4 linked regions of the Homo sapiens genome follow. The protein of the gene in region 1 interacts with the protein of each later gene in a pairwise test. Each region holds a gene or a part of one and is shown in the gene's direction. Other genes may lie near its edges.

Region 1 (3,679 bases):
GGTACGGGAACCTGCTCACAGGAAGAGGAGAGAGCCCCAGGAAGAAGGGGGGACTGTTAGCAGCGTAGAATTGAGGAGTTGGAAGAGACCTTTAGAACAGCTGGTCATTATGCCAACTGGGTGTCCACACTAAGTTCGGCATCAATATGGTGACTTCCTGGGAGCAGGGCACTACCAGCTTACCTAAGGATGGGTGAACTGGCCCAGGTCAGAAATGAAGCAGGTCAGAACTCCCATGCTGATCGGTAGTGGGACTGCACCTGGGCAGCATAGCGAGCCCTTGGCTCTTAAAAAAGAATAAAATAAAAATAAAGAACAGATGCTTATTTCCCTCTGGGGAGGGGCTGGCCCAGGGTTACACAGTGAGGGTGGGGGCAGAGGTGGGCCCACTGTACCCTTGTTGGGTTGTCTGATGACCCCTCTGGCCACCCCCATAGGAGATGGACTGGACCGGGAGGAGGAGGAGGATGAGGAGGAGGAGGAGGAGGAGGCGGTGGCAGTACCTCAGCCCATGCCAAGCATCCCGGAGGACCTGGAGAGCCGGGAAGCCATGGTGAGGCTGACTCCCCCTCCCCAACCTTTGCTGCCTCCCTCTGTGGTCCCTCCCAGACCCCCTTCTGCTCTTGGTTTCCCGGCCTTCTGATTTCTTCGGACCCTCACCCCTTTCCTGGGAGCCAGTGGTGAGACACCATTTCACTTGGGACCAACAAGTGCACCCTCTGAGGCCCCAAGGGAAGGGCTGCTCTCTACCTCCCTGCCCTGTTCATCCTATATATCCTCCTACAAGAATGCACCCCTCTTGCCTGCAGGTGGCATTTTTCAACTCAGCTGTAGCCAGTGCCGAGGAGGAGCAGGCAAGGCTACGTGGGCAGCTGAAGGAGCAAAGGGTGCGCTGCCGGCGCCTGGCTCACCTGCTGGCCTCGGCCCAGAAGGAGCCTGAGGCAGCAGCCCCAGCCCCAGGGACCGGGGGTGATTCTGTGTGTGGGGAGACCCACCGGGCCCTGCAGGGGGCCATGGAGAAGCTGCAGGTGAATGAGTCTCTCCTGGCATGGGTCAAGAAGGGTGGGGGCGGGGCAGGTCGCTGCCGATATATGACTCCATTATTTTGGTTCCAGAGCCGCTTTATGGAGCTCATGCAGGAGAAGGCAGACCTGAAGGAGAGGGTAGAGGAACTGGAACATCGCTGCATCCAGCTTTCTGGAGAGACAGACACCATTGGTGAGTGGGAGGCCAGGGCACGGCAGGAGGAGCTGCACAGCGGTCGGAGGGAACCCAGCATCTGAGCCCTGTCCTCCCGCAGGAGAGTACATTGCACTGTACCAGAGCCAGAGGGCAGTGCTGAAGGAGCGGCACCGGGAGAAGGAGGAGTACATCAGCAGGCTGGCCCAAGACAAGGAGGAGATGAAGGTAGGGTGTGGAACATCTCTGGGGGTGGAGGTGGGCACGGGCATGGGCATGGCAGCTTAGCACCCCTCCCTCCAGGTGAAGCTGCTGGAGCTGCAGGAGCTGGTCTTACGGCTTGTGGGCGACCGCAACGAGTGGCATGGCAGATTCCTGGCAGCTGCCCAGAACCCTGCTGATGAGCCCACTTCAGGGGCCCCAGCCCCCCAGGAACTTGGGGCTGCCAACCAGCAGGGTGGTGAGTAGAGCCCTCGGGAGGGGTGGGCAGGCAGGAGTAAGGGAGGGCTCGCGTGGCACTCAGAGCCCTGCCTCTCTCTCTCCAAAGATCTTTGCGAGGTGAGCCTCGCCGGCAGTGTGGAGCCTGCCCAAGGAGAGGCCAGGGAGGGTTCTCCCCGTGACAACCCCACTGCACAGCAGATCATGCAGCTGCTTCGTGAGATGCAGAACCCCCGGGAGCGCCCAGGCTTGGGCAGCAACCCCTGCATTCCTTTTTTTTACCGGGCTGACGAGAATGATGAGGTGAAGATCACTGTCATCTAAAAGCCGGCTACTGTCAGCAAAGCCTGAAGAAGTGGGGCTGGATACCCTGCCCCCACCATATCCCTACCATCCCTTCTCAGTCAACCCTTTACCCTTACAGTAGCAAGCATAGACCCCTGTCTAACGGGGGTAGACAGGTGCAGATGAGGTGAAGATCACTGTCATCTAAAAGCTGGCCACTAAATTAAAAAAAAATTAAAAGTTATGGGATTAAAAAAAGTTATGGGATAAAAAAGGTTATGGGTAACTTATGGTATAAAAGTTATGAAAAAAGGCCAGGTGCAGTGGCTCACGCCTGTAATCCCAGCACTTTTGGGAGGCTGAGGTTGGGAGTTCAAGACCAGCCTGGTCAACATGGTGAAACTGTGTCTCTACTAAAAATACAAAAATTAGCCAGGCATGGTGGCACGTGCCTGTAATCCCAGCTACTCGGGAGGCTGAGGCAGGAGAATCGCTTGAACCTGGGAGGTGGAGGTTGCAGTGGGCTGAGATCACGCCATTGCACTCCAGCCTGGGCGACAGAGTGAGACTCTGTCTCAAAAAAAAAAAAAATTATGAAAAAAGTTATGGGATTAAAGAAAGTCAGGATAAAAATTTTAAAAAGCAGGCCACTGTCAGCAAAGCCTGGAGAAGTGGGGCCGGAGGCTCCGCCCCCATCATGTGCCTGCCACCCCTTCCCAGTCATCCCTTTACTCTTACAGTAGCAAATAAGACCCCTGTCTAATGGGGGGAGACAAATGTGTAGACCCTTAGCCACCTTGGCCAGGGCTGACTCCTTAAATTTCTGGATGATGATGATTGTTATTTAATAGCCAGAGGCTCATATAATTGGCCTCTTTGGAAGAGGCCTCATGGCCTCCTTACTCTCACCAAAGCAATTTTTCCCTCAGGGGGGCTCCCATCTTCTTACACAGAGAGGCAGCTGAGGCAGGACAGTGGGGCTAACTGTAGACCAGGCGAGGGCACGGGCTGCTGGGGTGGCCCTGCTTCCCCAGTGTACATATTGTATCTGTGTAACATTTTGTATATTCCAGGGGTAGGGCCGCCCCCTGTATCATACCTAGCAGAGGTTGGAGCTGGCACATGGGGAGGAGGTTCTAATAATTATTTGGGGCTGGGAAACTTATTTATTGATAGCATAGGACAGAGGAAGGAGGCGGGGATGGGGTCGTGGCGCCCTGGTGATGCGACTCCTGTTTATTTTGCTTTTTATTTCGGAATAAATGGATTTAGCCATACTGCTCTGCCTGATGTGTTCCTGTTTCTCTCACTGGGTCCTGGAGTTTGTGCCACTGAACAGGGAGCCCCAGAGTGTCTGAGCATGTGCAGCTGGGCTGTTGGGACCTTCCAGGCTTGTTACCTGTATGCTGCCTGGTGACATCTTGGGGATTACACGGGGACTACCATGGTACCTATGGGGACAGTTTGGCCCCGATGGCCAACAGGCTCAGAAGCCTGATCTAGCGGTGGCCAGGAAGACAGGATGCCAGCACCCAAGGGCACTGACTTCCATCCAGCCCAGGTGTCTTCCATTCTGTCCCCCTGCCTCCCTCGCCTGCCTGAGCCTGGTGGCCTGTTCTGTCTGTCCCTCCAGAATGCCAGCCGCCCTGCCGGCGCCCTCCAGGCTGAGTTAATGGCCCTGCCCCCTAGTGGCCAGAGCCCGCTTCACAGGATGAGAGCCCCCTAAGCTCCAGGGGCTTTCCAGGAAAAATGTCCCTTGGAAAAGATGTGGTCTTTT
Region 2 (6,887 bases), on another chromosome or scaffold:
CCCTCAGGGCCTCCTGGGGCGACTCCTCACCTCTCCAGCTTCCAGTGGCTGCCGGGGGAACTCGGGCGCATGGGCATTACCCGTCTCCGCCTCTGTAATCAGATCACCTCCTCCTCTTCTGTCTCTCAAATCTCCCTCTGTCTCTCTCTTATAAGGATGCTTGGATTTGGGGCCACCTGGGTAATACAGGATAATCTCCTCATCACAAGATCTTTCATCACATCTGCAAATACCCTTTTCCCAATAAGATCCCATTCACACGTTCAGGGATAAAACACAAACATCTGGCCTGGTACGGTGGCTCACGCCTGCAATCCCAGCACTGTGGGAGACCAAGGCAGGAGTGTCGCTGAAGGCCAGGAGTTCAAGACCAGCCTGTGTGACATAGCAAGACCCCATCTCTACAAAAAACTTTTGAAACTAGCCAGGCATGGTGGCGCATACCCGTAGTCCCAGCTACTTGGGAGGCTGAGGCAGGAAGATTCCTTGAGCCCAGGAGTTCAAGGCACAGTGAGCTCTAACCACACAACTGCACTCCAGCCTGGGCAACAGAGCAAGACCCTGTCTCAAACACAGATCACAGCACACACACACACACACACACACACCACACACACACAGCAATCAGACACATAAGAGCATAAACCACACACAGAGACTCAATGACACTGACACCAGCAAACACCAACACACACAAACACATGCATGTAGTTGGCCAGGCACACAGACACAAAGGTATGTAACAGCATGCCCCCATACAAAGATGTCATTACACAAATACACAAATACTAGCATGCAGACACACAACGACCTCCTAACACATAGAAACACATGGGACACGGCACATCCCCGGTGCACACAAACACACTGTATTCCACGACACCCTGGCATGTAGATGCTCACAGAAAACAGCCGTCCCTCACCAGCACCCTGACACTGAGACATGCCGCAGCCTGGACACATGGATACTGAAATCCAGACACATCGTCCCCAGGTACCCTGAGGTCTAGTCGCCCAGATGCTAAAATACAGACAGGCATTGGTCTCACCTAGCATGGGACACTGTCATATCCTGACACGGCAATGTCCAAACAGGTCGCATGTATGGACACCCAGACTTACACAGGGAGAGCTGACGGCCTTGGCTGCACCTAAGGGGACACACACTGACCCCTCAGGAAATCCTGCTGGTCCCGTCCCCAGGGTGGGAAAGGTCAACAAGGGAAGGACGTGATGACGCTAGCCTCACAGGGAATGCCCTCCCCTTCCTCCTCGGGTCACACAGGCTGGTGTGCACTGGCCTCTCTGACTCAGATTCCCGAAGGAAGGATTGACTGACTGCCTCTTCTATAAGAGCCAACCTCCAATCTCCATGTGAGTGCTCTGCACCAGCCTTGAGTGAAGCAGATCCCAGGCCCCTTTGAGGAAAGGCAAAAATCTTACTGCCCAACCCCCTAGCAGTGCCTCTGAGCTTGCTCCACGGGGTACAGGGAAAGGGGCCGACTGGGCCGGAAGGGCCCCAGCGAAGGAGGCACACCTGGTAGTTCCATTTCCTGACTAGCAACTTCCAGCCCACATCAATTTTAAGGAGTCCAGAATATTTGTAGTATGCAAAAAGGGGCATTACGAAACTTTTAAAAGTCTGTTTTAATTATAAAAGTAATATATGCACATGGTTTTAAAAAAAATGCTGGCTGGGTGCGGTGGCGCATGCCTGTAATTCCAGCACTTTGGGAGGCCGAGGTGGGTGGATCACGAGGTCAGGAGTTCGAGACCAGCCTGGCCAGCTTGGTAAAACCCCGTCTCTACTAAAAATACAAAAAATCAGCTGGGTATGGTGGCACGTGCCTGTAATCCCAGCTACTCAGGGGGCTGAGGCAGAATTGCTTGAACCCAGGAGGCGGAGGTTGCAGTGAGCAGAGATGGCGCCACTGCAGTCCAGCCTGGGCAACAGAGAGAGACTCCATCTCAAAAAAAAAAAAAAAAAAATGCTCTATGGGCACAAGATGAAAACCCAGAGTCTCCTTGACTCTTCCCTCCTGAGGCCTGAGGCCTTCCCTGGGAGATGGGTGCTGTGAACAGGTAAGAATGGCCCTCCTAAGGCCAGGGGCAGTGGCTCACGCCTGTAATCCCAGCACTTTGGGAGGCCGAGGTGGGCGGATCACGAGGTCAGGAGATTGAGACCATCCTGGCTAACAGGGTGAAACTCCGTCTCTACTAAAAATACAAAAAAATTAGCCGGGCGTGGTGGTGGGCGCCTGTAGTTCCAGCTACTTGGTTGGCTGAGGCAGGAGAATGGCATGAACCCAGGAGGCGGAGCTTGCAGTGAGCCGAGATCGCACCACTGCACTCCAGCCTGGGCTACAGAGCCAGACTCTGTCTCAAAAAAAAAAAAAAAAAAAAATGCCCTCCTAGCCAGAGGCGGTGGGTCACACCTGTAATGCCCACACTGTGGGAGGCTGAGGCAGGAAGATGGCTTAAGCCCAGGAGTTCAAGACCAGCCTAGTCAACACAGAAAGACCTCGTCTCTATGAATACTTTAAAACTTAGCCAGGTGGGGTGGCACACACCTGTAGTTCCAGCTACTTGGGAGGCCGAGGTGGGAGGATTGCTTGAGCCCAGGTGGTAGAGGCTGCAGTGAGCCAAGATCACACCACTGCATTCCAGCCTGAATGACAGAGCGAGACCCTATCTCAAGAATAAAAAAAGAACGGAGAAGGAGAAAGGAGAGGAGGGGAAGGGAGGGGAGGAGAAGGGAGGGGAGGGGAGAAAAAGAAAGAGAGAGAAAGGAAGGAAGGAAGGAGAAAGGGAGGGAGGGAAGAGAAGGAAGGGAAGGAAGGAGAAAAGGAAGGGAGGAAGGGAAGGGAAGGAAGGAAGAAGGAAGGAAAGGAAGGAAGAAGGGAGGGAGGAAGGTAAGGGAAGGAAGAGAAGGAAGGGAGGAAGGGAGGGAGGGAAGAGAAGAGAAGGAAGGAAAGAGAAAAGGAAGGAAGGAAGAAGGAAGGAAAGGAAGGAAGAAGGGAGGGAGGGAGGGAAGGGAAGGAAGAGAAGGGAGGGAAGGAAGAAGGAAGGAAGGAAGGAGAGAAGGAAGTAAGAGAGGGAAGGAAGGAAGGCAGGCAGGCAGGCAGGCAGGCTCTCCTGGGGGAGATTCTTGTGGGTCCTGTGCCAGTCCCGTGTGGTGCCTCCTACCAGTCCTCTTTAGGAGAGCCAACCTTTCTCTGTCTCATTCATTCCCAAGTCCTGTGCTGTCAGTGCCCCGCCACCTCCAGACCACTCAGCCCACACCGGACCCCAGTGCCCCCTGCCTGCAGAAGCCCAAGCTGTGGGGCAGAGAAGGCCCTGGCACTGGTTCAGAACCACTGCCCCCAGAGCTGGGAAAGGGTGACCCAATGGTCAGTGACCCCAGTAAAACCCCATGGCCTTAAGCCGCCAGGCACCTCCGGGGGTCAGTCGCAAAAGTGGTCTCAGGGCCAGTTGGAAGAAGGCTGAATCCTGCGCTGCCGGTGCACGGCCCCCAGGGCCAGAGGTCAGGGTCCCGAGCCCAGAGACCACACTCGCCGCGCGGGCCAGGATGCGGCGGAATCAGGTCGCCTCAATCCGTGCGCGCCGGACTCCGGGCAGTGCCTAGCGCCCCTATCGGGCCTCAGTTTACCCCACTGTCCAAAAAACGTCCCCCGCCCCAGGACGGCAGAACCGGCTACTCTGGACTGCGGGCCCGGCCGACGGGGGCGGAACCGCGGAGCGGGGGAACCACAGGCCAGCGCCGGGCCCCCGCCCCCGCCCCCGCCCCCTCCCCGCCCCCTCCCCGTCGCGGAGCGGCCGCGGGAATAACGCGAGAGTTCGCCCCCTCCCCCCCGCAGTAAAACTGTCAAAGGTGGGAGGGGCGGGAGCGCGCATGTGCGCAGCGCGGCGCGCAGCCTGCGCCGCCCGGACCCAGCGCCCCGCGCCCCGCGCCCCCCGCCCCGGCCCGGCCCGGCCCGGCCGCAGCCCCGCTGGGCGCCGCAGGTAAGCGCCCGGCCGCGCCCCGGACCCATTCTGGCCGCAGCCCCGGCGCCCACCGCGCCCCGGATCTCGACCCTGCGCGCAGGCCAAGGAGGGGGCCGGGCCCGGAGCCCCCCCGCCCCCCGCCGCGCCCGAGCCCCCGCGCCCCGCGCCGGCGCCGTCTTCCTGCCTCCTCCTTCTCCAGAAAAAGTCGCCATTTTGGTTCACTGCCTTCGCCCCCCCACCCCGCGCCCGCGATCGGCCCTGCCCGGCCAGGCCGAGGCCCGCGCCCCGCGCCCGCTCCCGGCCCCAGGTGACAGGTGGGTGGCGAGGCTGGCCCCAGGTGCGCGTCCCTGGCCGCGCTCACCCGCGCGCCAGGCCTGGGCCGGGGTCCCGGGCCGAACGGCCTACGCGGCGGACCCGCTGCTGGCGTCTCCTGCGCGCAGCGCGGCGGAGCCCCCTCTCCCCGCGAGGGCTCTGTGTCCCCGCTGGGCTCGGGAGGGCCGAAGCCCCTTCTCATCCGGGGCGCCAGTCGCGTCTCTGCCTCCCAGGCTGGCCCTGGCCTCAGGCCCCACTATTCTGAATTCTTCTCCCAGGCTTCAGAAAAATTGGAAGTGGGGCCTCAGCAGGCACCTGCACCCCAGGCCACCGGGGTCATCAGGTGCTGGGATGACTCATGCCGGCCCTGTCTCCTTTCAAAAGTTGCAAAGTGAGGACTTCCAGAGAACTTTGTCCCCGGACACTGGCCTCCCCCTTGGCAATGGGCAGTGACTGTCCTGACCTCTGACCTCAGCTCTCTGGCCCTCCTGGACACAGCAGCCCCTTCCCATCCCCTCGGATCCAAGTTAATTAGAAGCTATCAGGAGGGGGCCACCTGCCCACTCAACCCTCACCCTGCTTCCTGTCCCACCCCCTTCCGTGGCTTTTCCACAGGGCTGGGCCCAGAGTCTCCTCTGCTCCCCAGCTCTCAGGATGGGGTTCCCAGCAGCACAGGCCCTCGGGGGCCCCAGCCTTGGGCAGCAGGGCGTTCTCTCTGGCCAGCATCCTGGGCCTTCACTGCTGGTGCTTCCACGACTTGTTTGGCTGAAGTGGTAGTGGTGGGTCTGTAGGCAGAGGACTGAGAGGATCCAGAGAGAGGTGGGGGGCGGGTCAGCCTGCCAAGCCTGGAGACAAGTCTGCGAAGAGCATCAGGTAGGATAGTTCAGCCGGCACAGGGACGGGAGCTTGGTGCAGTGCCAGATTGGGCCAGGGGTCCTCAGTGCCCACCTTGGCTGTTTTCCATCTGTGTCTGGAGAGAAGATTCCAAGGGTACCTGCCTGGGTAGGCTGGCATTGCATCAAGTCAGCATGGGAAGGTATGAGGGCCCCAGTGAGAAGCTGTGCCCCCACTGCTGGGCCTGGGCAGCTTGTGAGCCAGCAGCCATCATCAGAGACATAATTGGCCCCTGGAGGAATGTTGCCAGCCTCCTTCCTCCTGCGCAAGGCACCTCTCCCAGGGGCACACCCCCTCCCAGCACTGGGTAGGAGTGCATCACCTTCGGCATCATCTTCGCAGCTGTGGGGCTACGCACACTGTGGAGCTGCGTACACTGTAGAGCTGCGTGTTGGGAAGGGGGTCTGGAAGTTGGTGAGGGTCTCAGGACAGGACTAGATCCTATCAAACTGATGATGACTCCTGGGTTATCTGGGGAGACCTTGGCTGGCAGCCCCTCCCCTAAGTCAGAAGCCCCCATCACTTGCTTTTCCCACGTGAACAAAACCACAGGAAGGCAGGCCCCTCTTCCCTGACCAGAGAGGACCTGCCAAGGGCAGGGCTCCAGGGCAGCCTCACCACGTGTTCCAAGTGGGGCCCGTCAGGCTTCACAGATTGTCTACTTGCTCTGCAGAGATGACGGATCCTTTCTGCGTTGGAGGCCGTCGGCTCCCGGGGTCCAGCAAGAGTGGTCCCGGGAAGGATGGCAGCCGAAAGGAGGTCCGACTTCCAATGCTGCATGACCCACCGAAGATGGGTAAGAGGAGTCAGGGCCAGAGTCAATTCCAGATGGTTCTGGGCAGCAAGTGGTAGGAGTGGACCATTGCCCTGGGCGTCCTGTCTCCAGGTACCCAGCTAGGCCCCTAGAGTTCCCAAGGACCTTACCAGGGTAGGGGTTGCCTTGGACATAGCCCAGGGTCCTGGGTTCTTGTCCTCAGCTGGCCGCAGCCCCTGCCCCCGGTGCCCTCGTGTTGGGACAGCGGTGCTCACTGTGGGCCTGTGCAGCCGCCGGTGGTAGGCGGTGCTACACAGCTTCCGAGCCTTGCTGTGTTGTGTGCTGCAGGGATGCCGGTGGTCCGTGGTGGACAGACAGTGCCCGGCCAGGCCCCTCTCTGCTTTGACCCGGGAAGTCCAGCCAGTGACAAGACAGAAGGGAAGAAAAAGGGGCGGCCAAAAGCCGAGAACCAGGCCCTCCGAGACATTCCTGTGAGCTCCCTCAGGGCCATGGTGGGGCTCATGCTGGGGTCTCCCTATCCAGCCACTGCCCTGCCCTGATTTGTCCTCTGCACATCTGGTACCAACTCTATGCCTCAAGATGTGGGCACTGGCCTGGCAGACTTCACGTGGCCTGGCTTTGTATCTGATGTGCCGGGAGATTCGGGGGATCGCGTTGGTGGGCTCCTAGAACGGGTCTTGTGCATGGCCCCTGCCAGGTGGCTTGAATTCCCACTGCAGTCCCGAGGTTGAGGGGCTCATGTGGTGTGTGTGCCCTGCAGGCCCGGGGGGGCTCTGAGTCTGGGGCTCGGGCTGGCAGTGGCCCAGGTGGCTGCGGGTCAGCAGCACCACCTTTCCCCACGCCTAGCTCTCCCTGATGAACGACTGGAAGGATGAGTTCAAGGCACACTCGAGGGTGAAGTGTCCAAACTCAGGGTGCTGGC
Region 3 (7,733 bases), on another chromosome or scaffold:
AGGTAAAAGTATTTTCAACAAATAAACAGTGAGAGATTTCATCACAAGACCCATACTAAAGAATATGATTTTTTGAGTACCTGAAAAATTATCCCAAACAGAAGCACAGAGATGCAGGAAGAAATGAAGAGCATGAAAAAAGGTAAAAATATGGGTAATTACAAATGTATGTTGACTAGCAAAATCTTGAGGAGTCTTGAATATACGCAGAATTAAAATTTATGACAACAAAATGAAAAAGGTAGAAGGGGTATAAGTGGAGTTAAAATCATCTAAGATTCTAGCATTATCAGAGAAACAGTAAAGATAAAAATCCATTAGACTTTAACAACTCAAGGATGCCTATTATAATCTCCAGGATAATTGCTAAAAGAATATATAGCTAATGACATAATAGAGGAAAATGGAATAATAAAATTATTTAATTAATCCAAAAGAAAAAAGGAAAAGTAACATTTAACAGGTAGGAGTAGAAAAAACATGGTAAGAAAATAGATTCAAATCTAATATAAATCAGTAATTATATTAAGTGTAAATATTTTTAAAAACCAAATAAATGACAAATTGTATTACAGTAGAAAAAACAAAACTCAACTATATGTTCATCATAGGAAATACACTTTAAATATAAGGGCACAGAAAGGTTGAAATAAAAGGATAGAAAAGATACACCATGCAAACACTAATAAAAGCTGACGTGCCTATACTAAGATCAAAGTAGAACTTAAGGCAAGAAGTATTACTAAAGATAAAACGGTGGCATTTTATAAAAATCAAAGTGTCAATATGCCAAGAAAATATAACAATTGTAAAATATGCATGTATCTAATAATATAGCCTCAAAGTATATAAAACAAAAACTGACCTAACTGGAAGAAATAGATCTGCAAGTACATCTCTCTCAGTAACTGACAGAACAAGCAGCCAGAAAAATCTATAAGGATATAGAAGATTTGAACAACATAGGTAAAGACTCAACCTAATTCAGACATAGAGAGAGAGAACACTGCATCAAGCAACTGAAGAATACCAATTATTTTCAAGTGGACATGGAACATTTACCACAATTGAATGTATACAGGGCCATAAAGCAAGTCTTAGCAAATTGAAATGATTGAAATCAGAGTATACAAACCATATACTTTGTGCAAACCATAATGAAATTGAGCTGGAAATCAGTAACAAAAAGATAATTGGAAAATCCCCATATATTTGGAAGTTAAGCAATGTACTTGTAAATAGCCAATAGATCCAAGAAGAAATTCCAGTGGATATCAGAAAATATTTTAACTGAATGGTAATTAAAAGGTGACATATCAAAACATGTGAGACGCAGGTAAGTGTACTTAGATGAAAATGTTGTAGGACTTTCTCCTTAGCTCAGCTAAAAACCGGGTTCTTTGGGTTCTTGTCACATAACCAGGAAAAGATTAGGCTTGTGGACACACAGAAGGGTAAGAAAAACGAAATTTATTGGGTGTAAAAGGAAAAAAACTCAGCAAAGCGAAAGGGGTTCCTGTTAACAGGCCCCCATCTCACAGACTGAATCCTAGGTTGCCACCCAGAAACATGAGAGGCCAAGCTCCTTCCCCCCTGCAAACAGTGAGAACTTCTCGAGGTCCCGCCCCATCCACCCGGTGGCAGGTCGGAGGTTCTCCCGGGAGCCCTTTTTACTTGGCTGTTTCGGAAACTGATGGTCTTAAGCACACATATTAAAAAAGAAGAACGGTTAAAAACCAATGATTGAGACTTCCAGAATGACTGAGTAAGGGTTAGGATGGATTCTTTCCATCCTCAAAGAATTTTTACTATTTGACCTGTTTGGCAGTTCACTGAAAAGCTTCCTTCACAGAATTTGTCTTTATTTGACTTGACTCAGAGCTTACTCTGTGCAAATAACCCTATCCTCAGGGCATTTGTAAAAAAAAAAAAAATGGTAATTGTTTAATATCATAGCTGCCTGATTTGGCATTACTAGCTGGGGTTAACCATAGGCTTGACCAATAACTGAAAAAGAAAAACTGGAGAATAAGACGGAGACTTTGAAAAGTTTTGATATAGTCCTGAGAATTTGGGTCACATGCATGTGACTGTGCACATGGCTGAGAAAGACCTGAGAAGGCCATAATCTCTCACCTCAGGCTGACTTTGAGGCTCTCACAAGAAGGAAGCGAAGGCTAGGCAGAATCATAAACTGCCTGCATGATCACTAAAGGTATGCCCAACCTGCACCCCCGACTCCCAACCAAACACACACACACACACACACACACACACACACACACACACACAGACACCCCCTCAGCAAAGGAAAGGAGACATCAGTTCATGGAGATCTCTGTCCAGTCATTAGCTGATCGTTAAGCTAATAAGCAGACTTTAATGCCCACACATGATAAAAAATATAGACTTCATAGAATTTGTCCAAGAAAGTCACTAAATGAACAAATAGCAACAGCAACAACAATAAATGCCACCAACAAAACTTGGGAGTGGAAATCTCATTTTTAGTTACTATATTATTTTAAGTGTCCAACTTCAACAAAATTTTTTGAGGCATAAAGAAACAGGAAACCCTTTATTGCAAACAGAGTTATATATAAAGGGGGAAAAGCAGACAGTAGAAACTGTTATTCTATTTTTTTTTTTGTTTTGAGACAGGGTCTCACTCTGTCACCCAGGCTGGAGTGCAGTGGCACGATCATAGCTCACTGCAGCTCGACCTCCTGCACTGAAATGATCCTTCCTTCCTCAGCCTTCCAAGCAGCTGGGACTACAGGCATGCACCACCACAACTGACTAATTTATTTTAGTTTTGTAGAGACAGGGTCTTGTTATGTTGCTCTGGCTGGTCTCAAACTCCTACCAGGAGGACGCTCAAACCATCCTCCCTCCTCGGCCTCCCAAAGTGCTAGGATTACAGGCATGAGCCACCATGCCTGGCCTGAAACTGTTATTCTCTGAGTAATTGTCTTTTTGGTTATAAACTGTCTCTGAGGAATTGCAGATATTGGGCGATTAAACCAAGATTTTTAGTCAGCTATTACAAATGTAGTTAAAGAACTAAAAGAAACCATTCCAAAAGAATTAAAGGAAAACAAGGCCAGGTGTGATGGCTCACACCTATAATCCCAACAGTTTGGGAAGCCGAATGGGTAGATCACTTGAGCCTAGAAGTTTGAGGCCAGCCTGGGCAACATGGAGAAACCTTATCTCTAAAAAAACACAAAAAATTAGCTAGGTCTGGTGGCGCACGCCTGTAGTCCCAGCTACTTGAGAGGCTGAGGTGGGATGATCACTTGAGTCCAGGAAATTGAGGCTGCAGTTAGCCAAGATCATACCATGCCATTGCACTCCAGCCTGAGTGACAGAAACATGTCTCAAAAAAAAAAAAAAAAAGCATTAAAGGAAAGAATTAAAAACTATGCCTTACCAAAAAGAGACAGAAAAGTATGTGTGCATACATATATATATGTGTGTGTGTATATATATATATACACACACACACACTTTGTATACATATACTTTTATATAGATATATAGAAAAAATATATATATAGAAGTGTGTGTGTGTGTGTGTGTGTATATATATGTATATAGAAAAGCACATATATCCTTTTCTATATATAACCAAACAAATTCTGGAGACACAGTGAAAATTTCTGGAGAAATTCTGGATGGACTAGGGGTCCACTGACAGATGAATGGATAAAGAAATTGCAGCATGTATATAAAGTGGAATATTATTCAGTCATAAACAGAGAATCCTGCCGTTTGTCACAAGATAGATGAAACTGGAGAATATTATGCTAAGTGAAATAAGCCAGACACAGAAAGAAAAATGCTGCACAACTTCACTTATATGTAGAATATTAAAAAAATTAAAAAGAAGAAGTAAGAAAAAAGTCAAATACACAGACAAAGAATAAAATGGCAGCTGCTACGTGTGGGGAGTGGACGGGAAGAGGGAAATCAAAGGGTACAAAGTTGCAGATATATAGGATAAATAATTTAGAGATCTAAGGTACAACATGAGGACTGTAGTTAATAACACTGTATTAAAGATTTTTGCTAAGAGAGTAGATTGTGGGTGCTCTTGCTACAGTGCACAAAAAAGGGTAACTATATGAGATGATGGATATGTTAATTTACTTGACTATTTAAAAATTTTACTACATGACAAAAATTCTGGAGTTGAAAATGAAAAATTAAAGAGGGATTCAACAGCATATTTGAACTGACAGAAGAAAAAAATCCATGAACTTGTAAACAGGTTAATTGAGATTATCTAATCTAAGCAACAGAAAGAAAAAAGAATGAAGAAAAATGAACGTAACTTTAGAGACCTGGGGGACACACTCACGCTACTAGTATTCACATAATATGAGCCCTAGAAGGAGAGGAGACAGAGAAAATGGATGAAAGAATATTTGAAGAAATAATGGCCAAAAACTTCTGAAATTTGATGAAAAACGGCATCAAATCTGCATATCCAAGAAGCTCAACAATCTCCAAGTAGAATAAACCTCAAGACCAAGACACATCATAGTCAAACTATCAAAAGCCAAAGACGAAGAATCTGGAAAGCAGCAAGAGAAGTGATTCATCCCACACAAAGCCCCCACCAGAACATGACTTCCTAGAACCATGCTCCCGGAACCAATGCTGACAGAATCTAAGGTAACAATCACTTGTGAGTCATCAACAGCACTGCCCTATCAGTGAAGTCAAAGATTGAAGAGGAACTCTTTCAAACCTTTCAAGTGCCCCCTCCTTTCCTTAAAGTCTTTTATAGGGGTCCCCTTCTTGGCCATCTCCATCCTGTGAGTCAGGACTGAAAGGGCACAGACAGGTCACTGCCAGCATTGTTGGGGCAAGCCTGCAAGCACGCATCACTGGGGATCTGACATGACAATGGCCGCCTGCCCCCTCTGAGGGCTACAGGACTTACCCCAGTGGGAAGCAGCTAAGCAGTAAGTAACTGTTGGCTTTAGACTGTATAGTATTTGTTCTAAGCATAAGGTAATATATAATATTTTCCTTAAAAAGAAGCTCCTAGTCTTACAGTATAACTGAAAACTGGGCATGTATCTTTAGTGCATGTTTTTACAGCTATACAGATACACATCTACAGTTTTATATTGTACTTTATATTTTAATACACATCTACCTATTTGATATGGTTCTTATTTTCTTTCTTTCTTAAAGAAAGTTTAGTGTTCACTTGAGAAAAACTTGGAGGTGAATGTTTTCCAACATCCTAACCCAGTAGACGCCCATTCATCCAGCTACTATTTCCTGAACACCTATCCTGTGGCAGAACATTTCGCTGGATGCCAGACATAGAGATGGAAGATGAGGTGTTTCTAGTGGGACAGGAAGGGCACATGCTCAGTCTGAGCTTAGGAGAGATGGCCTGGAGGAGGTATCTGAGTGCTGAAGGATTCGCTAGGTGAACTGAAGTGAGGTTGGGCAAGGATATCCAGGGAGAGGGGGCCAGCATGACATGGAAGTGAGGGAGGACTTCACATATTGGAGGGATTCTAGGCAAAGAGCCATACAACATAGAAAATCAAATTTCCAAAATGCAGTTCAATTCAGTTCAATTCAACCAACATTTTCACCAATTCCCTCCTATATAGGCGGCGTTATATTATGATAGCTGCTGGGTTACAGAGATGTCAGGAAGACATGTCCACACCTAATTTCAATCAAGTGTGACAAGTAATAGTGGAGTAACAGACAGACAGTATCGCAGAGGTGGCGAGGAACTTTGTCTGGAGGGTCCGAGTAGCTTTCAGAGGGGAAAGGATGTACAGGAATTCAAGCCCACCACAGGAACAAAAGGGGCTCTCAGTAGAGGATGCGACATGTGCTTCACCACACAGGCAGGAAACTGCAGGCAGAGTGCCAAGAGCTGAATAGAGCCCGTTAATACTGGGCCTTAGATTTGGAGTTGGGTGCAGGCTGGGTAGGAAGGAGAGGGAGAAGCAAGCTGGAGTTGGGCTGCACAAGGCCTTCCTAGGGCGTTCAGCTTTGATCTTTGGGCTACAGGGTCTTTGAAGGTGTGTGAACTGATGTGATAGGACGAGAGAGTGTTCTAGAAAACACCTGTAGGGCTACAGTGCAGGGGCAGATGAGAGGGTAAGATCAATACAGAGAGCAGCGAGACTGTTACAGGCATCCTGGCCTGACCTGGCTGTCATGGGGGAGATGGAACAGGGGCATGGTTTCAGGAAATGTTAAGGATCTGGATCTCGGCTAGGAGGGCTTGATGGTTGAGGAGAGAAGTCTGGTGAGGGAGAGGGAAAGGTCAAGGATGTGCCCCTGGTTCTGGTTTGTGTGACTGGATGGATGGTGATGCCACCAGCTGTCCACAGCCTAGCCACTGTGTCTTCATATGCACGCGCACACAGACACACACACACACACACACACACACACACACACACACCAGCTATGTGTCTTTTCTCCTCCTCCACTCCCTGTTCCTAAACCAGAAATGGAAAAATACAGAGAAAGCCCTGAAAATTTCCCCAATAGGTCTCACGGATGATGGGTTGGTGAGATCCACTGAGTGAGGGCCGGACCCTGGCAGCTTCCTCCAGAAAGCACAAAATGGAAAACAATGCTGTCAGCATGTGCCTGCACTCCTTATCTGACAACACTGAGCTCTTTACTGCACTCTAACCACCTTCCTATGTCCAGCACTTTTTCTCATCCCTTGATTCATGTTTGTAGTTACAGGGATTGCTATGGATAATTCTGCTATCTGATTCCTCAGATATATGGCAATGTTTGAAGATCTTTCTCCTTCCCTCCCTCCCTTCCTTCCCTCCCTTCCTTCCTTCCCTCCCTCTCTTTTTCTTTTCTTTTTTTCTTTTCCTTCTTTCTTCCTCCCAGCTTTTATTTTATTGTGAAATATACTGTATTGACTGGGGTACATAAAATATCCATGTACCACTTAACACATTTTTATAACAACACACATGAAACCGCCACCAAGCAAAGAAAGAGTCCTGCTAGCACTGCAGAAGCCTCTCTCAAGTACTCACCTAATCACACCCCTTAGTCTCACCTCCTCATCCCACACTCCAAATCCTCCCACACCAGCAACTATTACTCTGACTTTGGGACTCACTTCCTTGCTTTTCTCTTTCTGTGTTGAAGTATGTTCCCCTAGACAATGGCATTTAGTCTTGCTTGTTTGGAACTTCATTCTTTGAAATTCCCTGATCCTGCTTCTCTCTTTCAGCATTGGGTTTATAAGATTTACCCATGCTGTTGTAGGCAGCCATGCTGTCTGCCATGTGGATATACTGCCATTTTTTATTCCACTCTATTGGGATGGTCATTGGATTGTTTCCAGAGTTGAGCTCTTATGAACAAAGCTCCTTGAACACACTTGTACATGTATCCTAGTCACAGTTCCTAAGTTTCCTCAGGGTTTATACCTGGGACTGGAGCTGCGGGTCATCTGGTGTCTTTCTTATTGTTCCATATTACTAAATATTGTGTGAGGGCCTTCTTGGTCCATGTCCCTGGAAACATTCACCATCGTCTCTCACCTTTTTGTTTTAAACCACTTTTCCCAAAATAAACTCCTCTCCTAAAATACACTCTCCTCCTCCCCTCTGAGGTCAGTGGGCCTGTCTTCTGTGTCCCAGGCTCGTAACAGAGGACATTCACACGTGAGCATGCCCATAGGCAGATAGGAACAATTCTCAAGTGAG
Region 4 (7,046 bases), on another chromosome or scaffold:
TAACAACTAGTATCATCCAATGATTTGGAATGCTACATTTATCATAGACAAAATGCTTATACATGTGTGGGTTTGTTTCTGTTCCATTGATTTTTCTCTTTATTCTAGAAGTAGTACAACTTTGATTTATTATTGTAACTTTAAAATACACTTTGATATCTGATGTAGGGCACATATTTTTCCTAGATATAAATTTTCTAAACAATGTTATTGAGGTATAATTTGTGGGCAGTAAACTATACATACTTAAAATGTACAATTTGAAGAGTTTTGATGCATGTATACACACATGAAACCACCACCACAATCAGGATACCTAACACACACACACACAAACACACACACGATACCTAACATTTCCATCACTCTCCAAAATTTCATTGTGTCCTTTTACAATTCATCTTTTCTTCCATTTCTGTCCCCAGATAACCACTGATTTGCTTTCTATTCCCATAGATTAGTTTGAATTTTCTAGAATCTTATATAAATAGAAGCATACAGTAGGCACTCTTTCATGTCTGGCTTCTTCCACTCAGCATAATGGTTTAGAGATTCATTCATGTTTTTGTATGTATCAGCAATTTGTTCCTTTTTTGCAGAGTAGTAGTTCATTATATGACTATACCACATTTTAAAAAATCCTTTCCCTGTTGATGGACATGTGGGTTATTTCCCACTTTTCGCTATTACAAATAAAGTTGCCATGAGAACATTCATGTTTGTCTTTGTATGGAACACACATTGTATTTTCATTCCTCCTGCAGAAATATCTAAGAACAGAATGGCTGGGTCATGGGTAGGCATATGTTTAATTTTTAAAGAAACTGCCAATCTGTTTCCCAAAGTGTCATGTTTTACATTTTCCAAAGTAGGGCATATATTTAAATTTACTGAATTATATTCACAGAAGGACTGCCTCTAATTGTCTGCCCCTATGATTTGGTCAGACCTTTTAGCATTTTTCTTATAAGTTTTAGTGATAGATTACCATTATATTCTAAAATGAGCACATATTTTTAACTAGTTGCAGGGTTTTTTTAATTTGTTTGTTTCGTTTTGTTTTGTTTTTGAGACGGAGCTTTGCTCTTCTTGCCCAGGCTGGAGTGCAATGGCGTGATCTTGGCTCACCGCAACCTCCTGTCTCCCGGGTTCAAGCAATTCTTCCGCCTTAGCCTCCGAGTGGCTGGGATTACAGGCATGTGCCACCACACCCGGCTAATTTTGTATTATTTTTTTTTTAGTGGGGACGGAGTTTCTCCATGTTGGTCAGGCTGGTCTCTAACTCCCAACCTCAGGTGATCCACCCTCTGTTGCCCCCCAAAGTGCTGGGATTACACGCATGAGCCACCACACCTGGCCAACTAGTTGCAGTCTTAAAGACCTAGGTATTGCCACATCATTAAGTAGGTAACAGACTTAAATAATTTCTCCTTGTGAATCAATGTTTTTTATTTTGGTAAAAAAAAAACCCCACATAACATGGAATCTACCTTCTTACAAAATTATTAAGTGTACAGTATGGCATTTTTAACTATATGCACATTATAGTACAGCAGATCTCTAGATTTTTTTCTGTGAATCAGTTTAAATATGCATTTTGAAATAAACAGAAACATAATATTATATACAATTATCTTGGATTTGCTGGATTTTAATTGTGGCTCCTCTACTTATGAGATCTTAAACAAATTACTTGATCTCTCTGGGCCTCAGTCTCCTCATCTGTATAATGAGGATAATAATAATACTTACTTTGTAGGATTGTTGTTGCGATGGAAGGAAGAAAAAGCTGGAGCGTTGTCTGGTATGTAGTAAGCATCAATAAAAGTTACTAGTCAGGCTTGGTGGCATGTGTCTGTAGTCTGAGCTACTCAAGAGGCTAAGGAAGGAGGATATCTTGAGCCAAGGAGTTCAAGGCTCCAGTGAGCTATAATTGCACCACTGCACTCCAGCCTGGGCGACAGAGTAAGAACCTGTCTCTAAAAAATTTTAAAAGGCCAAGCACAGTGGCTGTCTTCTGTAATTCCAGCACTTTGGGAGACTGAGGCGGGAGAATCGCTTGAACTCAAGAGTTCATCAGCCTTACAACATAACAAGACTCCCATCTCTACAAAAAAGTTAACTATTAATGTTTTACCTCCTTTCACAGGAGGAATGAAAATTATAAAGCAGATGCTTTTTATTGAAAACCTGTTTTCAGTATTTTGATTAAAGAAATGTGTTCCATTTATAATTATTGTTATTTAACTACATATAGATTTATTATGTACAACTTAACATTCAAAACTACCTTCCATATTTTGTTTGTTTGTTTCTATACCAAGAAAGGGAAACAGAAAAGAGCTGATTTAATAATGGGTTATTGAAAGATTTAGGGACTTGAATATTTGCAAAATGGTATTATGATATAGAAAGAGTGCTGGATTAGGCGTCAGACAACATGGGTTAAAACTCGTGTTTGGCAAACTACTAATCATGCTTCTAGATCTGTAAAATGCAAATGATTATCCATGAACTTTCCACCTGTCAGGGCAGAAAAGAGGATCAAAATGAGCTAATTAATTTTTGCTAATTTCAGCAGAAACAGACTGACCTCTGTTTTGGCTAGAATCATGGGACATTTAACCTATAATAATGTTTTGCAAGTGCAAATTCCTTAGGGAAATAAACAGCCAGAACTTACTACCAGAAGTTCCTGAGGTCTAATTCCATCTTTTCAAGAAGGCTTTTTGATCTGGATAATTACTTACTTCTTAATTTGTCAAATAAATTTAATTTTTACCATATGGAGCCCTGTTGAGAGCTCACTTATTAAAATCTTTTTCCTTTCCTAGGCTTGTTTACAAATTGATCCTGCTGACAGGATATCATCTAGTGATCTTTTGCATCATGAGTATTTTACTAGAGATGGATTTATTGAAAAGTAAGCATTTTGAGTGAATGTGGGTTTTTTAAAAGCATTTTGTATTGGGAAATTTTACTAGCAGGAAAATTGCTGTATAGGTTACTTTTATATAACAAATATTCAGTTTAACAAAAATTTATTGAGTTATTGTATCAGGTATTGACTAGGAAGACAGCAGACTTAACAAGTGTCACGAATGAAAAGCCTAATAATAGGATGGGCATAGTGGCTCACACCTGTAATCCCAGCACTTTGCGAAGCTGAGGCAGGCAGATTGCTTGAGCCCTGGAGTTCACGACCGGCCTGGGCAACATAGAGAGACCCCTGTCTCTACAAAAAATACAAAAATTAGCAAGGTGTGGTGGCACACGCTTGTAGTCCCAGCTACTCGGGAGGCTCAGGTGGGAGGATTGCTTAAACCCCAGAGGTGGAGGTTGCAGTGAGCTGAGATTGCACCACTGCACTCCAGCCTGGGTGACAGGTTGAGACCCTATCTCAAAAAAAGAAAAAGAAAGTCTAATAATAAAAAGTAATTGCAACTAACATTCGTTACACAGTTACCATGTCCTAGGCAGTGTGCTCTGCTCTTTACATACTACAGTTTCAGTGTCATCATAGACCAGAGATAACATTAAATAAGCAATCAATACTTCTTAGCTTTATTCCTGTTTGGACCTCTGACTCAGAGAATAGTCTGGTTTTTCCTCTTCTGATGACATTCATTTATCATAATTAGCATGCACTTCCCAAATGATTTTTTTTCTACTTATTCTCTGTTGCAGTGCTTGTTGTCTTTTTTTTTTTGAGATGAAGTCTCGCTTTGTTGCCCAGGCTGGAATGCAGTGGCACAATCTCGGCTGACTACAAACCTCCATCTCCCGGGTTCAAGCAATTCTCCTGCCTCAGGCTCCAGAGTAGCTAGGATTAGAGGCACATGCCACCACGCCTGGCTAATTTTTGTATTTTTAGTAGAGATGGGGATTTTGCCATTTTGGCCAGGCTGGTCTCAAACTCCTGACCTCAGGTGATCCACCCGCCTTGGCCTCCCGAAGTGTTGGGATTACAGGCATGAGCCATTGCGCCCGGCTGCAGTGCCTGTTGTTGTATCCTACCCATGAAATTGGAAGTTCCCTGAAGACAGGTGCCATGCTTCTTATGGCCCTTCTGTGCCCCACATTGCCTATGACATGCCCAGCATATAATCTGTATTACAATTTAGATTCATGAATCAGCCATATTTCTAAAAAAACACCATTTTCTATTTGGGCTTTGAAAGAAACAGGAAAAGTTTCTCATTAACTGTAAAACCATTCAGCTTGTCTTTGGACGTGACGTTAGAAAGATGGACATCCATTAAAAATGTGATGGAGCTAAGGTCAGATATGGAAGAGTCCAGGAACTGCTATTGGAGATAGACTAAATAGAAAAAAGCGAAGAGAATCCTTGAGGGTGACTAGAACTTTGCGCATTTCAGGAATTTTACTCTAAAACAAACAATAAGATGATATATTTAAAGTGCCATTGGCAAGGTGCTGCAGCTCATGTCTGTAATCCCAGCATTTTGGGAGGCCAAGGTGGGCAGATCAACTGAGGTCAGGAGTTCAAGACCAGCCTGGTCAACATGGTGAAACCCCATCTCTACTGAAAATGCAAAAACTTAGCTGGGCGTGGGCATGTGCCTGTAGTCCCAACTACTCAGGAGGCTGGGACAGGAGAGTCATTTGAACCCAGGAGGCTGAGGCTGCAGTGAGCTGAGATCACACCACTGCACTCCAGTCTGGGTGACAGAGCCAGACTCCGTCTCAAAAAATAAAAGAATAGGCCGGGCTTGGTGGCTCACACCTGTAATCCCAGCACTTTGGGAGGCCGAGGCGGGCAGATCACGAGGTCAGGAGATCAAGACCATCCTGACTAACGCGGTGAAACCCCGTCTCTACTAAAAATACAAAAAACAAAATTAGTTGGGTGTGGTGGCGGGCCCCTGTAATGCCAGCTACTCAGGAGGTTGAGGCAGGAGAATGGTGTGAACACGGGAGGCAGAGCTTGCAGTGAGTGGAGATCGTGCCACTGCACTCCATCCTGGGTGACAGAGCGAGACTCTGTCTCAAAAAATAATAATAAATAAATAAATATAATAAAAAATAAAATGAAGTGCCATTGATAAAAAGTGGCAGTTATTGGCTGGGCATGGTAGCTGATGCCTGTAATCCCAGCACTTTGGAAGGCCGAAGCAGGCGGATTGCTTGAACGTAGGAGTTCAAGACCAGCCTGGGCAACATGGCAAAACCCTGTCTCTACAAAAAATACAAAAATTATCTGGGTGTGTTGGTGTATACCTGTAGTCCCAGCTACTACGGAGGCTGAGGTAGGGGATTTCTTGAGCCCAGGAGGTCAGGGTTGCAGTGAGCCATGAGTGTGTCACTGCACTGCAGCCTGGGCAACAGAGAGAGACCGTGTCTGAAAAGAAAAGATGCCAGTTATTGAATTAAGAGGTTGCTTCATATCACTTCTACACAGACGAAGTTTATTTTTCTTGGACATTTAGATATTAGGCTTCTATTATTGTGGGGTGAAAGTACCTTGAGTTCAATTTATAGAATCCTCAGAAGAGTGGGCTGGACTAGGGAAGAATTCATTCATGGGCTGATGTTTTAAAACCTTCCCAAACTGATAGCTGTAGCTGCTTCAAGGAGGGGACTTGTGCAGTTCAGGGAAGGGGTGGGAAGGAAACTTTTCAGTATGGACTTTTGAACTTTGAACCACATGAATGGACTTTCTAATCAAAAATAACTTTTAAAAAGAAAGAAATCAAACTAAAACCAAAATAATCTCTCTCCAATATGAAGGTATTCTGTTACATTTCTCTAGAGTAAGATTTTAGAAGTTAGTTAGTTCATTTTTAAAGTTCTATTACTTTAAAGAACCACAGCTGGGTGCAGTGGCTGACGCTTGTAATCCCAGCAACTTTGGGAGGACGAGGCAGGTGGATCACCTGAGATTGGGAGTTGGAGACCAGCCTGACCAACATGGAGAAACCGCGTCTCTACTAAAAATACAAAATTAGCTGGGTGTGGTGGCACATGCCTGTAATCCCAGCTACTCAGGAGGCTGAGGCAGAATCGCTTGAACCCAGGAGGTGAAAGTTGTGGCGAGATGAGATTGTGCCATTGCACTCATGCCTGGGCAACAAGAGCGAAACTCCATCTCAAAAAAAAAAGAAGAACCACAGAAAAGGTCAAAGTGGTCTGAGTCTTCCTTAAAAATAACAGTATCTTTATCAAAATTAAAAGCAATATTTTTCTGAGTAAAGTTTGCATCGCAGAAGGAATCTAATTAGTATAAATCTATTTTGTAAAAGTTTTATATAGTAGGTTCCCATAGCATAATTTTCGAAAGATGTATCTTTAGAAGAAAGCAATTTTTATTAGGTAAATGTTGGGCCATCTCTTGACATGCATTATAGTTAGCATTATTTATGCTGTAGCTGAAATGTACATTAATTGATGAAATGGTTTATTCAAGATAAAATACTCCATCTGCATATATAAAAAGATTACTCGTTGATATTGCTTGTTTTGTCAGATTCATGCCAGAACTGAAAGCTAAATTACTGCAGGAAGCAAAAGTCAATTCATTAATAAAGCCAAAAGAGAGTTCTAAAGAAAATGAACTCAGGAAAGATGAAAGAAAAACAGTTTATACCAATACACTGCTAAGTAGTTCAGTTTTGGGAAAGGTAAGAACTTTGGTTTTTGTTTCAGCCAGTATAATTATATTATAGTTAGACTCTAATGACAAAAATAACTGTTATGATGACTCAGATTTTGGATGTATCTATTCCAGGAAATAGAAAAAGAGAAAAAGCCCAAGGAGATCAAAGTCAGAGTTATTAAAGTCAAAGGAGGAAGAGGAGATATCTCAGAACCAAAAAAGAAAGAGTATGAAGGTGGACTTGGTCAACAGGATGCAAATGAAAATGTTCATCCTATGTCTCCAGATACAAAACTTGTAACCATTGAACCACCAAACCCTATCAATCCCAGCACTAACTGTAATGGCTTGAAAGAAAATCCACATTGCGGAGGTTCTGTGACAATGCCACCCATCAATCTAACTAACAGTAATTTGATGGCTGCAAATC

What was found.
Region 2: the proteins of GOLGA2 (region 1) and ZNF512B interact in binary tests that used the Homo sapiens proteins (3 or more experiments, as listed by UniProt).
Region 3: the proteins of GOLGA2 (region 1) and CCDC70 interact in binary tests that used the Homo sapiens proteins (3 or more experiments, as listed by UniProt).
Region 4: the proteins of GOLGA2 (region 1) and CDKL3 interact in binary tests that used the Homo sapiens proteins (3 or more experiments, as listed by UniProt).

The regions. Positions count from the first base shown.
Region 1 is NC_000009.12:128,255,329-128,259,007, reverse strand, and holds the end of GOLGA2 (golgin subfamily A member 2), read left to right. Parts: coding exon 1-1; intron 2-437; coding exon 438-553; intron 554-809; coding exon 810-1,028; intron 1,029-1,115; coding exon 1,116-1,218; intron 1,219-1,300; coding exon 1,301-1,407; intron 1,408-1,482; coding exon 1,483-1,639; intron 1,640-1,726; coding exon 1,727-1,941; 3' UTR 1,942-3,179; downstream 3,180-3,679. UniProt on the Homo sapiens protein: Peripheral membrane component of the cis-Golgi stack that acts as a membrane skeleton that maintains the structure of the Golgi apparatus, and as a vesicle thether that facilitates vesicle fusion to the Golgi membrane.
Region 2 is NC_000020.11:63,966,929-63,973,815, reverse strand, and holds the start of ZNF512B (zinc finger protein 512B), read left to right. Parts: upstream 1-3,885; 5' UTR 3,886-3,892; coding exon of another isoform or gene 3,893-4,002; intron 4,003-4,158; exon of another isoform or gene 4,159-4,298; intron 4,299-4,446; exon of another isoform or gene 4,447-4,574; coding exon of another isoform or gene 4,575-4,687; intron 4,688-5,863; coding exon of another isoform or gene 5,864-5,865; coding exon 5,866-5,986; intron 5,987-6,292; coding exon 6,293-6,435; intron 6,436-6,811; coding exon 6,812-6,887. UniProt on the Homo sapiens protein: Involved in transcriptional regulation by repressing gene expression. Associates with the nucleosome remodeling and histone deacetylase (NuRD) complex, which promotes transcriptional repression by histone deacetylation and nucleosome remodeling.
Region 3 is NC_000013.11:51,857,257-51,864,989, forward strand, and holds the start of CCDC70 (coiled-coil domain-containing protein 70), read left to right. Parts: upstream 1-4,712; 5' UTR 4,713-4,973; exon of another isoform or gene 4,974-5,032; intron 5,033-7,639; exon of another isoform or gene 7,640-7,728; intron 7,729-7,733.
Region 4 is NC_000005.10:134,308,169-134,315,214, reverse strand, and holds part of CDKL3 (cyclin-dependent kinase-like 3), read left to right. Parts: intron 1-1,297; exon of another isoform or gene 1,298-1,804; intron 1,805-2,834; coding exon 2,835-2,923; intron 2,924-6,487; coding exon 6,488-6,641; intron 6,642-6,748; coding exon 6,749-7,046.